Homo sapiens: one gene and its partner. The protein of the gene in region 1 interacts with the protein of each later gene in a biochemical or structural test. Each region holds a gene or a part of one and is shown in the gene's direction. Other genes may lie near its edges.

Evidence for each region. Proteins that work in one complex are often made in the same cells at the same time.
Region 2: the proteins of PEX26 (region 1) and PEX14 form a complex in vitro, tested with the Homo sapiens proteins (one study listed by BioGRID).

The regions. Positions count from the first base shown.
Region 1 is NC_000022.11:18,073,229-18,081,282, forward strand, and holds the start of PEX26 (peroxisome assembly protein 26), read left to right. Parts: upstream 1-4,761; 5' UTR 4,762-5,148; coding exon 5,149-5,378; intron 5,379-6,645; coding exon 6,646-6,786; intron 6,787-8,054. UniProt on the Homo sapiens protein: Peroxisomal docking factor that anchors PEX1 and PEX6 to peroxisome membranes. PEX26 is therefore required for the formation of the PEX1-PEX6 AAA ATPase complex, a complex that mediates the extraction of the PEX5 receptor from peroxisomal membrane.
Region 2 is NC_000001.11:10,477,871-10,485,223, forward strand, and holds part of PEX14 (peroxisomal membrane protein PEX14), read left to right. Parts: intron 1-6,622; exon of another isoform or gene 6,623-7,167; coding exon of another isoform or gene 7,168-7,245; intron 7,246-7,353. UniProt on the Homo sapiens protein: Component of the PEX13-PEX14 docking complex, a translocon channel that specifically mediates the import of peroxisomal cargo proteins bound to PEX5 receptor.

The DNA.
Region 1 (8,054 bases):
GCCTGTAGTCCCAGCTACTTAGAGGCTGAGTTACAAGGATTGCTTGAGCCCGGGAGGTTGAGGCTGCAGTGAGCTGTGATGGCACCAGTGCACTCCAGCCTGAGCAACACAGAGAGACCCTGTCTTAAATAAATAAATAAATAAATAAACAAATAAATAAAGCACTCAGAAAAGCACCTAGTGCATAGTTAATATCATACCATATAAATTGAGCCATCACTATTATTGTTGTAAAGTACTATACAGGATGATTATGATGGTCACTTCTTAGATACAGAAGCAGAGTTCTGCTGTGTCTACAAGGAGAGGAACACTATAGGAAGCATTGAGTTCTGCCCTGAACTCCTAGTCCAGGCTTTAAAAAAGAGCCATAAAAATGCCATCCCACTGATGAGCCTCTGGAGCAAGGGAGGTGTGCCTTGACCATCCTGGAAAAACATCATCTCCACCCTACCTATACTTATCTCCTTGGCTCGCTTCTGGCCAAAGGTCCACACTTGGTCTGAACCTATTGCATGCAGAGCTTTGCCACAGATGTCCCTGTACTGAGGGGCTCTGGCTGGTTGGGATGTTCGAAGGGACAGCTGTGGATGCTGTTTATTGGCCTGAAATGTGGAACCAGTGTGGAGAAGGCAAGACAGGCTAGGTTGACGTCAGATGTAGGCTTTTCATTTTTATTTTTTGAGAAAGGGTCTTGCTCTGTCACCCAGGCTTGAAGGATTGAGTGCAGTGGCGCATCATAGTTTACTGCAGCCTTGAACTCCTGGGCTCAAGCGATCCTCCTGCCTTAGCCTCTCAAGTAGCTGGGACTATAGGCACGTGCCACCATGACCAGCTAATTAGAAAACATTTTTCAATAGAGATGGGGTCTTGCTATGCTGCCCAGGCTGGTCTCAAAGTCCTAGGCTCAAGTGATCCTCCTGCCTTGGCCTCCCAAAGTGCTAGGATTACAGGCATGAGTCACTGTGCCCAGCCAGATGTGGGCATTTTTGATTTTTGCATGGAAGAGTCAATAATTGGATTCCAGGGCTGGGCACGGTGGCTCACACCTGTAGTCCCAGCACTTTGGGAGGCTGAGGCAGGTGGATGGCTTGAGGTCAGGAGTTTGAGACCAGCCTGGAGAACATGGAGAAATCCTGTCTCTACTAAGAATACAAAAATGAGCTGGGCATGGTGGCATGCAACTGTAATCCCAGCTACTCGGGTGGCTGAGGCAGGAGAATCACTTGAGCCCGGGAGGCAGAGGCTGTGAGTGAGCCGAGATCGCACCACTGCACTCCAGCCTAGGCGACAAAGCGAGACCCTGTCTCAAAAAAAAAAAAAAAAAAAGAATTGGATTCTAGGTCAGAAAGTAATATTACAGAACTTCGGAGTGCTATGAGATTCTTTCTTCTTCTTTTTTTTAAATTGAGGCAGAGTCTTGGTCTGTTGCCCAGGGTGGAGTGCAGTGGCCCAATCTTGGCTCACTGCAACTGCGGAGGCCTCCCAGATTCAAGACATTCTCATGCCTCAGCCTCCTGAACAGCTGGGACTACAGGTGGACACCACCATGCCTGCCTAACTTTTGTACTTTTAGTATAGATGGTTTTTCACCATGTTGGCCAAGCTAGTCTTGAACTCCTGGCCTCAAGTGATCTGCCCACCTCGGCCCCCTAAAGTGCTGGAATTACAGGCATGAGCCACCGCGCTGGGCTGAGATTCTTTCTTCTTTCTTGCCTTACATCAGCCTGAACGAGTCCAGTGATTGACAAGTGTTCAATGGGCTGTCACATGGTTTCTTCTGCTCTTCACAGCCACCCTATGCAGCAGGTGTTAGTATTAGTGTCCTCAGATGAGACAACTGAGGCACAAAGAAGTATGGTGACTTTCTAGAGGTCACCTGGCTTTGTCACTGAAGGAACCAGGATTCTTTTTTATTTTTTAAAAATTTTTATTTATTTTATTTGAGGCAAGGTCTCACTCTGTCGCCCAGGCTGGAGTGTAGTGGTGTATCTCAGCTTACTGCAGCCTCGACCTCCTGGGCTCAACCCATCCTCTCACCTCAGCCTTCTGCGCAGCTGAGACTATAGGCGTGCTCCACCACGCCTGGCTAATTTTTGTAGAGACAGGGTTTCACCATGTTGCCCAGGCTGGTCTTGAATGCCTGAGCTCAAGCAATCCTCCTGCCTTGGCCTCCCAAAGTGCTGGGATTACAGGCATGAACCACTGTGCCCCACCTGAAGGAACCAGGATTCTAGCCATGCCTCTCATCTCCAGTCCAGTGTGCTTTCTGCTACAAAAACAACAACTCATCCCCTGCTACAGCAGGCTGAGCAAATCTGCCTCCTCAGGCAAGGAGCCACACTGAGCCCTCTGCCAAATGGAAGGAACAACCCCAAGTTCCAGAGCCTAGGTAGGGCTAGGGAAGGGGTTGTAACGAGGATACTGGCATCTCAGGTGCTCTGCCAGTTTTCCCAAAATAAAACTATTCAAACAATACAAATATTAATATGGGCCTGGCCTTATACATCTGAAAGGACTGTCCTTATTTCCACTGTGTTTTTTGTCTCAAAGATGAGGAAATGACAGAAGAGATGATTTCAAAGGCTGTCCCATGAGCTCCAACTTAGAGACAGAAGTTTGGCTAAGTAAAGACAATACGCATTTATGTTCCCCCAGAGGGAATGAATTCGCTTCTGTTTAGGATTTCTGTGTCTTCGCTTGAGAAAGTCTAAGTACTTGTAGACATAGAGGAGATGATGTGTCCCACTGGATGTGTGTTGAGGAATCCATTTGTGGGCATAATAGTGCTAAACAGTGGTTACATACGGACTGATATGAAGCCCGGGAATAGTTGAAAATTGGGTGAATCAGAAATGGAATACAATCATATTTTTATATGGTTTCTAGCTCTCCTCTCTCCTGCCTTAAATATCTTGACCTCATTCTGGCTGTCTCACTACTAAATAGGCAAATTTACTTTTAGCAAGGCTGCTTCTGTTAAGACTGTGCCTCCATCTCCTGGACAAATTTGGAATAGCAAGAAATTTGTTAGGAAAGGGACTTTTCCAGGCAGCAGCCGCTTAGAGCTGGCCGCTTCTGAGCATGTTCGTCTTCCCAGGCCTGGCTCACATTTTCAGTGCTTAATGCGCATGGCGCTTTATGCGCAATATTACTTAATTCTTCCCTCAGCCATTGGGAGCTAAGGACAAACTGTTATCCCAATTTTACAGGTGAGGAAATCAGAGCTTATTTAAATAAATTGCCGAGGTCACACAACTAGTAAGCGACAAAATCTCAGTCAAACCGAGGCTCTTTTGGTTCAAAGATGTGTATTGAGCTCTACTCTGCTCTGCAGGGACAGAACTAAGTATGTTTGCTATTCAGGGGATACACAGTCATTCCATGAGCAAGTTACACAATGTAAAATAAGGACATTGTGAAAAACAAAACCATACCGTACATAATGCACTTTATAGTAAAGTACTGGGAACAGAGTATTTGGTAAATTGTAACTATAATAATAATTTTAAACAGATCCACAAATCACACTTATTATTATATTCTGTTTCACCCGGGCTTTGCCAAGCTTCCCACATTTGTACTAGATCCTCTTGGCTTTAGTTTCTCCCCAGTTCTCTACCCTTTGAATTCACTCCAAAGCTTCCCTAGAATCTTTGCTCTCCTAGAAATTAGATTAAACAGGCACCTGCTCACATCATACATCCCCTGCCCTTGTCACCAGACATGCACACATCCATCTTCTGGGATTTCCGTTCTCTTGCAGAAAAGTCTGCATGGGAAGCTGAGGCAGAACCAAGTCCACCAGACTCCGAGGAAAGAGAAGTCTGGACCCTGTAACCAGATAAAAGTGAAACCAGGACTTCATTTATTCCACAAATACTTTTTGACTACCTATAGATGACAGGCACTGTTCAAGGCATTGAGGTTCCCACAGTGAACAAAAGAGACAAAAACGTCTGCCTTTGTGAGTTTATATCATAGTGGAAGGAAATAGACAATAAAAATAAGTAAAATATAGACATTGGTATGTAGATGGTGATAAATGATAAGGAGAAATATAAAGACAGATCGGAAGTGACAACAGTGGGGAAGTGGAATTGGTATCTGCATTTAACGTTGTTTTTTAACAGCAAATTCAGGATGGGGCAGAGAGCAGTGAGAAAAATGAGGCCCTTATGCTCAGCGCCCCCAACCCCGCCTCGGTGGGGTCACTATTCATTTTGGAACATTGCCCTTGGGACCAACATATTCTCAGTGGTCCTTGTGAAGGTTTCCACCCTAAGTCCCTCATCCTCACCAGGCAATATTCATTACCCTACAGCAAACTCCGGAGGCAACGCGGAGAAAGTGTGAATCAATTCAAGACTAAGGTTGCCAAAATGTTTGATCAGCTCTGCGTCAGCCTTGACATTACATTACATTACAGATCCCCTGATCGCCACCGTCGCAGAAGCTCTGAATTAAAAGCGTGCATGTAGCTGCACATCCATTGCTGGCACTTCTTCCGTTAGCCTCCGCTGGAACTGGTTAGTGAGGACCCCTCCATTTCACAAGACAGCTTCGGTTTTGCTTCGTTTTGACTTCCGCACCCCGAAGCTGTAGCACCAGTTTGTTTTCTCACGGCACAGGGGCGGCTTCCGGGGCGCGGCGTGCTGGGGGTTGTAGTCCGCGCTCTGCCTCCTACTTCCATTACAGAAGGCGATGGGCCGAGAGCTGAGGAACTACAACTCCTAGAGTACTCCGCGCCGCCGGGACGCCGCGCGGCTGCGGGGCTGGGCGAGCGCAAAGATGTCCGCGCCCGCTGCCGGGAGGCGAGGTGAGTCTTTGATCGTAACCAGGAGCCCGGAGCTGAGGCAGTTCCTGCACGTGTCGCGGGGCCGGAGAAGCTAGGGCCAGGTATTCCAGGGATGCAAGAATCCTGCAAATCTGACGTGTAAACTGCTTCCCCAGCCTCCAGGCGAGCCCAGCTTTTGCCTCAGATAGGCCCCTTCCTTTTCCTTCTCGGGGAATCGACCTCGGGAAGGGGTGTGGGCAAAGAGATGAGGACTCTCCCTCTTCGCCCAGGCCAACTCGGGATATCCCGGAGCCTCTGGGGAGGCGGTCACTCCGACGTCTGAGGACCTGGGCCTTGGACCCGGACTCGTTATGAAGAGCGATTCTTCGACCTCTGCAGCCCCCCTCAGGGGGCTCGGGGGACCCCTGCGCAGCAGCGAGCCGGTGCGCGCGGTCCCGGCCCGGGCGCCGGCCGTGGACCTTCTGGAGGAGGCGGCCGACCTCCTGGTGGTGCACCTGGACTTCCGGGCGGCGCTGGAGACCTGCGAGCGGGCCTGGCAGAGTCTGGCCAACCACGCCGTGGCAGAGGAACCCGCGGGCACGTACGTGCTGGGCTCGGAAATGAACCGATTTCCGGGCGCTCTTGTGGTGGGGCTCAAGGTCTCAGGAGTTCTGTCCTTCCCAGATTGCCCACAAGGAGCTTTACACCTCGCTTTCATCAGTGGTTTGTCTCCGAGAGGGTGGTCGCTCATCGTGTGCCCATTCTACAGAGAAGGGAAGTCGTGTAACAAAAACTTAGTGGGGATCCCACAGCCAATTATTTGCTCCTTGTTCCAAGGTACAATGACATGATGGGAAGGCTGAATGTGTATTAAGTGCTAAGTTCTGTCAGTAAGCAGGTGGTAAAAGTCCTCTCCCAGGTACCTCCGCCCTCCCCGCCCCGCCCAAGGTTGTTTATTCCTGACCTTGGCTGATGATGGGGAATGGGGGTCATGGCAGGAGCAGCGTTCTGGTCCAATTAGAGGACTGGATTAAAGAATTAATTCAGGGCCGGGAGCTGGGGCTTACGCCTGTAATCCCAGCACTTTGGGAGGCCGAGGCAGGAGGATTGCTTGAGCCCAGGAGTTCGAGACCAGCCTGGGTAACATAATGAGCCCTCTTCTCTACCAAAAAGAAGAAAAAGAAAAGAATCCGGAGAAAAAAACCTTGGGCTTGCATTGCTCTTTCTAATGCCACCAGCCTCGTCTGGCAGGTGAGGGAGTCATTTCTTTGCATTGTAAACTTGGGTTAGGCCACGCTAGGGAGGTGGTAGGTAGAATAGCTAAAGTTGACCACAAAGAAGGATGATCTGGAGAGCCCTGGCTGTGTTTTAGGGGACTGGGTGGGAGCTCATTTCAGTGAATGCAGAAGGCTTTGCTTCTGGGTGTCTGGAGGAACCTTACTAGGTGGTGCCTTTTAGCCAGCTATGGAGTCTATACCTCCACTCAGCCAGAAACCTTGCTCCAAGCCCATTTGTTCACAGAGCAAACTCTTAGTTCCAGCTCTCTTTTCAGCCACACACCGGTGCTGTGTGTTATTTCCCCCTCAGGATTACCCTTCCTCTTCATTTAAATCTGATTTCACCTGGATACAAAGATGAACGTTGAGCAACAGCTGACTTGCCTCTTGAAAGAGGGTTACAGGAACTTTTAGTTCCTGGGGGAAAGGGCAGCCCATGAGACCAATTGTGAAGCCCATCTAAATACTAACAGGGATGAGAGAGATGATGGCTGCTGAGTTGGGAGCTGGAGAGGAACAGTCCCAAGGTGGAGGTGGGAATGGAAATGGAGGGGAACCACTTCTAACTGAAATTGGTTTTTCTGCTGACAGCTCATTGGAGGTGAAGTGCTCCCTGTGTGTTGTGGGGATCCAGGCCCTGGCAGAAATGGATCGGTGGCAAGAAGTCCTCTCCTGGGTCCTTCAGTATTACCAGGTCCCTGAAAAGCTACCCCCCAAAGTCCTGGAGCTGTGGTAAGTCTTCTTTGCTGACTCATCAGATCGGTTCAGAAACGAGAGGATTTTCATCTCCTCTCCTAAATACCTACTCTTTTCCCCTTCCCTACTATTGCCCTCCAGATCGGATTCTTTCCCTTCACTTTTTTTTCCCCAGACTTCCATACATAGCAATAAAGAATAAGGGGGAGGAATTTAGGAGTAGAATAGATATAAAGAAGGGAGGAAACAGGGAATAGGAGCGACGTGGGATGACAGAGTGGACAGAGCTGAAAGAGCAGCTTGCTACGTCCTAGGAATTCCTAATTCTTAAAAAAAAATTTTGTTTTGTTTTGTTTTGTTTTGTTTTTTGAGACGGAGTCTCGCCCTGTCGCCCAGGTTGGAGTGCAGTGGCACAGTCTCTGCTCACTGCAAGCTCCACCTCCCGGGTTCACACCATTCTCCTGCCTCAGCCTCCCGAGTAGCTGGGACTACAGGCGCCTGCCACCACGCCCGGCTAATTTTTTTGTGTTTTAAGTAGAGACAGGGTTTTACCGTGTTAGCCAGGATGGTCTCAATCTCCTGACCTCGTGATCCACCTGCCTCGGCATCCCAAAGTGCTGGGATTACAGATGTGAGCCATCGCCCCTGGCCAAAAAATAACAAAGTTTTTAAAATTGACACTTGTACATATTTATGGGGTAAATTAGACATTTCAATATATGCTGTGTATATGTTGTATAATGATCAAATCAGGGTAGTTAGCATATCCATCACCTCATGCATTTATCATTTGTTTGTGACAGGAACATTCAAAAGCCTCTCTTCCGGCTATTTTATATATACAATACCTTACTGTTAACCATAACCACCCTACCGTGCAATAGAACACCACAACTTATTCCTCCTATCCCACCGTAACTTTGTACCCATTGACGAACCTCTTCCCGTCTTCCTTTTCTTCCTTCCTTTCCCAGTCTCTGGTAACCACCGTTCTACCGTCTGCTTCTATGATATCAACTTTTTTTTTTTTTTAAAGATTCACATGAGTGAAATCATGTAGTATTTATCTTTCTGTGCCTGGCTTATTTCACTTAACATGATGTCCCCCAGGTCCACCTGTGTTGTCATGAATGACAAGATTTCATTCTTTTTTATGGCTATATAGTATTCCATTATATATATATATATATATATATATGCGTGTGTGTATATATATACACATATATAAACACATATATACACATAATATACATATATGTACACATATACACACACACACACACACACACACACACACACACATT
Region 2 (7,353 bases), on another chromosome or scaffold:
GGACTAAATGAGTTATTTATTTATTTATTTATTTTTGAGACCGAGTCTCACTCTGTTGACCAGGCTGGAGTGCAGTGGCGCGATCTCGGCTTACTGCAACCTCCGCCTCCCAGGTTCAAGTGATTCTCCTGCCTCAGCCTCCCAAGTAGCTGGGGCTACAGGTATGCACCACCAGGCCTGGCTAATTTTTTTTTTTAAGTAGAAATGGGGTTTCACCATATTGGACAAGCTGGTCTCAAACTCCTGACCTCAGGTAACCTGCCCACCTCGGCCTCCCAAAGAGCTTGGTATTACAGGCGTGAGCCACTGCACCTGGCCTTAAATGAGTTATTTATGTAAAAATGCCAGAACAGTGCCTGAAACAATGTGTTGTCTATTATTATTATTATTCAATTTAATAAGCTCTGAGTTTTCACTCACAAATGGATCTAAACCTTTCTTCAAGTTCTATTACGACATCTTTTGGGGTATGATTTTTCATGTGTTGACTACTTGTCTAGTAAAGTTCTTTTATTCAGAAGTAATTCCTTAAAATTTCAAGGAATGCCCTGAATGCTAGTGTTTATTCTAGCTGTCCTTCATGACTTTTGCATTTCAGGAACATACTTACTTTTTCATAATGGTATAGTCTTTTTAGTCTATCCTCAAGACGACTTGCTGGAATTTCATTTATTGCTTCCTTTGTTCTGTGTTCCCCACATTGCTCTGTTTTATGTGGTTGATCTATTGATTGAGACAGGGTCTCACTCTGTCACCAGAGTGCGGTGGTGTGATCATGGCTCACTGCATCCTTGCCCGCCCAGGCTCAGGCAATCCTTTCGTCTCAGCCTCCTGAGTAACCGGGACTACAGGTGTGCACCACCATGCCTGGCTAATGTATTTTTTTTTTTTTTGAGACAGAGTCTCGCTCTGTCGCCCAGGCTGGAGTGCAGTGGTGCGATCTCAACTCACTGCAAGCTCCGCCTCTCGGGTTCGAACCATTCTCCTGCCTCAGCCTCCAGAGTAGCTGGGACTACAGGCACCTGCCACCACGCCCGGCTATTTTTTTTTTATTTCATTTTTAGTAGAGACGATGTTTCACCGTATTAGCCAGGATGGTCTCGATCTCCTGACCTCGTGATCCGCCCACCTCGGCCTCCCAAAGTGCTGGGATTACAGGTGTGAGCCACTGTGCCTGGCCTGGCTAATGTATTTTTAAAACAATTTTTGTAGTGGTGAGTTCCTGGCTGGGCGTGATGGCTCATACCTGTAATCTTAGCACTTTGGGAGGCTGAGTTGGGAGGATCGCTTGAGGCCAGGAGTTTGAGACCAGCCTTTGCAATATAGGGAGACCTCGTTCCTACTGAAAATTAAAAAATTAGCCAGGCATGGTAGTGCTTGCCTGTGGTTCCAGCTACTTTGGAGGCTGAGGTGAGAGCATCACTTGGGCCTGGGAGGTTGAGGCTGCAGTGAGCGGTGATTGTGCCATTGCCCTCCAGCCTGGGTGAGAGAGCAATACCCTGTTTGGGGACGGGGGAAGAGACAGAGAGAGAGAAAGTGCTGAGATTATAAGCATGAGCCACCACGCCCAGCCAGCATGGCTGATCTCTCATTGAAGTCCTTTCTAGTGTGTACACGTTGGAGCCCGTAGGAATGAGAAACGTTATCTCTATTTCCCAACTTTCCTACTAGCTTTTCTTCCTTCGCTGAACAGCAGAGGCATGGTTCAATCTGATTACTTCACAGTTACTGAGTATCGAGTATTATTGCAGAAGGTAGATTTCCTATCTGTGGAGGTTCACTGGGTACAGTAAATTTTGCATTGAGAGGCTACAGAAGCAGGCAGGGAGAAGAGCAGAGTGAAAGAGTGGAAGAGCATGGCTTCGCATCCTGGCAGGTTTTGGTGGAACTTCATCACTCACAACTATTGGACTTATCACTCCACCTTTCTGAGTATGTTTTCTCCTCTGTAAAACGAGAGCAATAATAGTTACCCTTAAAGCTGGGTGTGGTGGTGCATGTCTGTAGTTCCAGCTACTCAGGAGACTGAGGCTGGAGGATTGCTTGAGCCCAGGAGTTGGAGTCTGTAGTGCACGATGATCACATATGTGAATAAACCCCTGTACTCCAGCCTGGGCAACAGAGTGCAACCCTATCACTTAAAAAATAAATAAATAAAATAAAAAATAATTACCCTTTTAGTGTTGACTGAAATCACAGATGTGAAGAGCACCTGCTGCATAGTAAGTGCTCAGAGTTAGTTTTCTTCTCCCAGTCTTTACATGTAGTTTTGAGAGTCTGTTGAACTCTTGAATAACAGCAGGTCAGACAAGGTATTTGCCCTCTCAATGTTTTTTTTTTTTGTTTTGTTTTGTTTTTGAGATGGAGTCTCCCTCTGTTGCCCAGGCTGGAGTACAGTGGCTCAATCTCGGCTCACTGCAACCTCAGCCTCCCAGGTTCAAGCGGTTCTCCTGCTTCACCTGCCTCAGCCTCCTGAGTAGCTGAGACTACAGGTGTGTGCCACTACGCCTGGCTAACTTTTTTTTTTTTTTTTTTTTTTTTGAGACGGAGTCTTGCTCTGTCTCCCGATCTGGAGTACAGTGGCACAATCTCGGCTCACTGCAACCTCTGCCTCCTGGGTTCAAGCGATTCTCCTGTCTCAGCCTCCTGAGTAGCTGGGACTACAGGTGCCCGCCACCATGCCCAGCTAATTTTTTTGTATTTTTAGTAGAGATGGGGTTTTGCCATGTTGGCCAGGCTAGTCTTGAATGCTTGACCTCAGGTGATCCACCTGCCTCGGCCTCCCACAGTGTTGGGATTACAGGTGTGAGCCTGGCACCTGGCCTCAACTTTTTATTTTGAAAAATTTCTCACGTATAGAAAAGTTGAAAGGATAATACTGAGAACTTCTGTAAAATTCCCATAAAAACTTAACCAAGATGCACTGTTCACATTTTGCTGAATTTGCTTTATGTCAGTCTCTCTCTCTCTTTCTCTCTCTCTCTCTCTCTATATATATATTTTTTTTTTTGGAAGGATTTGTGGTAAGTTACAGACATCAAGGATATTTCATCCTAGAATATTTCACCTTATCTCTCATAAGAGTAAGGTTATTCCCCTGTATAACCACAATATCATTATCACACAAGAAATTTAAGTGTTGATAAATAGTATTATTTAAAACAGAATCTGCACTCAAATTTTCACACTTAAAAAAAATCAGAATCTAGTGAAGAAACAGAGATTGCATTGATTTGTCTCTTTAGTCTTTTTTTTTTTTCCTTTCCTTCCTTTTTTTTTTTGTTTGAGACAGAGTCTTGCTCTGTTGCCCAGGCTGGAGTGCAGTGGTGCAATCTTGGCTCACTACAACCTCCGCTTCCTGGGTTCAAGCAATTCTCCTGTCTCAGCTTCCCAAGTAGCTGGAATTACAGGTGCCCGCCACCATGCCTGGCTAATTTTTTTGTATTTTTAATAGAGACAGGGTTTTGCCATGTTGGCCGGGATGGTCTCGAACCCCTGACCTCAAGTGATCCACCCACCTCGGCCTCCCACAGTGCTGGGAGCCACCGCGTCCAGCCTTAAACTTTGTTTGTTTGTTTGTTTGTTTTTTGAGACAGGGTCTTACTCTGTCACCCAGTCTGGAGTGGAGAGGTGTTATCACAGCTCACTGTAGCCTTGACCTCCTGGGTTCAAGTGATCCTCCAGCCTCAGCCTCCCGAGTAGCTGGGACTATAGTCATGCACTATGATGCCCAGCTAATTATTTTTTGTAGAGGTCGGGTCTCGCTGTGTCGCCCAGGCTGGTCTTGAACTCCTGACCTCAAGTGAGCCTCCCACCTCAGTCTCCCAGGCTTCTTTTACTTAACACATATTTTTGAGATTCATTCATGATGAGAACAGTGACAGTTTATTATCACTGCTTTATACAGTTATTGTATGAATGTGTTTGGCCATTTATTATTAACCATTCTACTCTTTTTTTTTTTTTTTTTTGAGACAATGCCTGGCTCTGTTGCCCAGGCTGGAGTGCAGTGGTACGATTTCGGCTCACTGCAAACTGCTTCCCAGGCTCAAGCCATCCTCCTACCTCAGCTCCCCTGGTAGCTGGGACCACAGGCGCATGCCACCACACCTGGCTAATTATTTTTGTATTTTTTGTAGAGACGGGGTTTTGCCATGTTGCCCAGGCTGGTCTTGAACTCCTGAGCTCAACCAGTCTGCCCGTCTGGGCCTCCCAAAGTGCTGAGATTACCAGTGTGAGTGACCACATCTGGCCACCATTCTACTTTTTGTTTTTTGAGACTGAGTCTTGCTCTATCACCCAGGCTGGAGTGCAGTGGCATGATCTTGGCTCACTGCAACCTCTGCCTCCCAGGTTCAAGTGATTCTTCTGCCTCAGCCTCCTGAGTAACTGGGATTATAGGCACTGGCCACCATGCCTGGCTAATTTTTGTGTTTTTAGTAGAGACGGGGGATTCACCATGTTGGCCGGGCTGGTCTCGAACTCCTGACCTCAAGTGATCCACCTACCTTGGCCTCCCAAAGTGGTGGGATTATAGGCGTGAGCCCCTGCGGGTGGCCCATCTTACTTTTTTTTTTTTTTTTGAAATGGAGTCTCGCTCTGTCACCGGCTGGAGTGCAGTGGCGCAATCTCAGCTCACTGCAACCTCCGTCTCCCGGGTTCAGGTGATTCTTCTGCCTCAGCCTCCCAAGTAGCTGGGACTACAGGCATGTGCCACCATGCCCGGCTAATTTTTGTATTTTTAGTAGAGATGGGGTTTCTTCATGTTGGCCAGGATGGTCTCGATGTCTTGACCTCATGATCCACCTGCCTTGGCCTCCCAAAGTGCTGGGATTACAAGCATGAGCCACCGTGCCTGGCCTGAGCCATTCTACTTTTAATGGACATTAGATTGTTTCACCTTTAGGGTCATTACAAATAGTACTGCTGTGAAAATACCTGTACGTGTCTTTTTGTGAACATAATATGTGCATTTCTGGTGAGTTCATCTACGTTTTTTATTTTTTATGGTATTGACATGTTTGGAGAGTCTGGACTACTTGTTTTGTGAAATGTTCCACCATCTGGATTTGTCTGATTTGTTCCCTTACATTTAGATCCGGGTTAAACATTCTTTTGTGAGAATATTATGTAAGTGACGTTGTGTCTATCTGTGTATCATATCTGGAGGAACGAGTCCCATTGTCGAAGATGAAGTTTGATTGTTTGGTTAAGGTGGTGTCTATCACATTTCTCCATCATAAAGTTAACTTGCTAAATTAGTTGCTTTCTTTGCAACTTTGCTAGTATTGTTTTAAATTTTTGAGACAGGGTCTCACTCTGTCACCCTGGCTGGAGTGCAGTGGCACAGTCATGGCTCGCTGCAGTCGTGACCTCCTGGGCTCAAGTGATCCTCCTGCCTTGGCCTCCCAAAGTGCTAGGATTACAGGTGTGAACATGGCCAAGTTTTTCTTTTTTTCTTTCTTGAGATGGAGTCTTGCTCTGTCTCCAGGGTGGAGTGCAGTGGTATGATCTCGGCTTACTGCAATCTCCACTTCCCAGGTTCAAGCGATTCTCCCCCCTCAGCCTCCGGAGTAGCTGGGACTGCAGGTGTGCACCACCATGCCTGGCTAACTTTTTATATTTCAGTAGAGACGGGGTTTCACTATGTTGGCCAGGATGGTCTCAATCTCCTGACCTCATGATCCACCCGCCTCGGCCCCCCAAAGTGCTGGGATTATAGGCGTGAGCCACTGCGCCTGGCCTGGCCAAGTTTTTTTTTAGTATTTTAGTTTAATATTGTATTGACTGACAAAGTCTTATGGCCTAAACTTTACTGTGGAATTCTAATAGGTGTGTTGTGATCAGTTTGAGTTTTGACAAATTGTATATACGTGTGTAACCACTACCACCCTAAACCTGTGTAACCACCACTGCCACAAGCAAGATCAACAGTTTCAGTATCCCTAAACGTTCCCTTACGCCCCTTCCCATTGAATCCTTGCCTGTGGTCCTAGGAAATCTGAACTGTTTTCTATTACTATAGAGTATATTTGTCCCTCCTAGAATTTCATATGAATGAATTATGTATTCTTTTATGTCTTTTTTGGCTCAGAATAATGTTTGTGAAATTTATTTGTGTTATGGTATGTATCAGTAATTATCAGTAATGAATTACCTTTTTTTTTTTTTTTTTGAGATGGTATTTCGCTCTTGTTGCCCAGGTTGAAGTGAAGTGGCTCAGTCTTGGCTCACTGCAACCCCTGCCTCCTGGGTTCAAGAGATTCCCCTGCCCCAGCCTTCCAGTAGCTGGGATTACAGGCGCCCACCACCATGGCCGGCTAATTGGCTAATTTTTTTGAATTTTTAGTAGAGACAAGGTTTCACCATGTTGGCCAGAGTGGTCTTGAACCCCTGACCTCAAATGATTTGCCCACCTCGGCCTCCCAAAGTGCTGGGATTACATGTGTGAGTCACTGCGTCCAGCCAATTTTTTTTTGTTTAGTAGAGATGGGGTTTCACTGTGTTGGTCAGGCTGGTCTCCAACTCCTGACCTCATGTGATCCAACTGCCTTGGCCTCCCAATGTGTTGGGATTACAGGCGTGAGCCACTGCGCCTGACCATGAATTACTTTTTACCGCTGAGTAGTATTCCATCGTATGGATGGCTATATCTCAATTTGTTGATCTGTTCACCAGTTGATGGACATTTGTAGTAGTTTTTGATTCCTGCGTAACAGTATTACCACAAATTTAGCCGCTTGGCACAGCACACATTGATTATCTCATGGTTTCTGTGGGTCAGGAGTCAGGAAACCACTGGGCTGAGTCTCACCAGGCTACTATTGAGAAATCTGTCAGGACTGTGGTCGCTGACTAGGGAGGGGTCTGCTTCCTAGCTTGTGTGGTTGTTGGTGGCATTCAGTTCCTTATGGACCATGAGACTGGAGACTTTAGTGTGTTACTGTCAGCCAGCGGCCGCCCTCAGTTTCTTGCCAAATGAGTCTTCCCACTTGCCTCCTCAAAGCCAGCAGAAGAGAGAGTCTCTTAGTAAAGTGGACATTACCACGACGTATCTCACCCACATTAATGCAGTCACGTACATGCTGTCACCTTTGCCATATTGTGTTGGCCAGAAGCAAGTAACAGATCCTGGCCACATTTGAGTAGAAGGAACAGCACAGGGGCATGGATACCAGGAGGTGGGGATCATGGGGTCACCTTAGAGTCTGTTCCCCACAGGATTCCTTCTCATTCTGGGCTACTGTGAGTATTTGTGTATGTGTAAGTGTTTGCGAGGACATATTCTTCATTTTTCTGGGGAAATAACCTGTAAGTGGAATGGTAGGCTTATGTAGTAAGTATGTTTAGCTT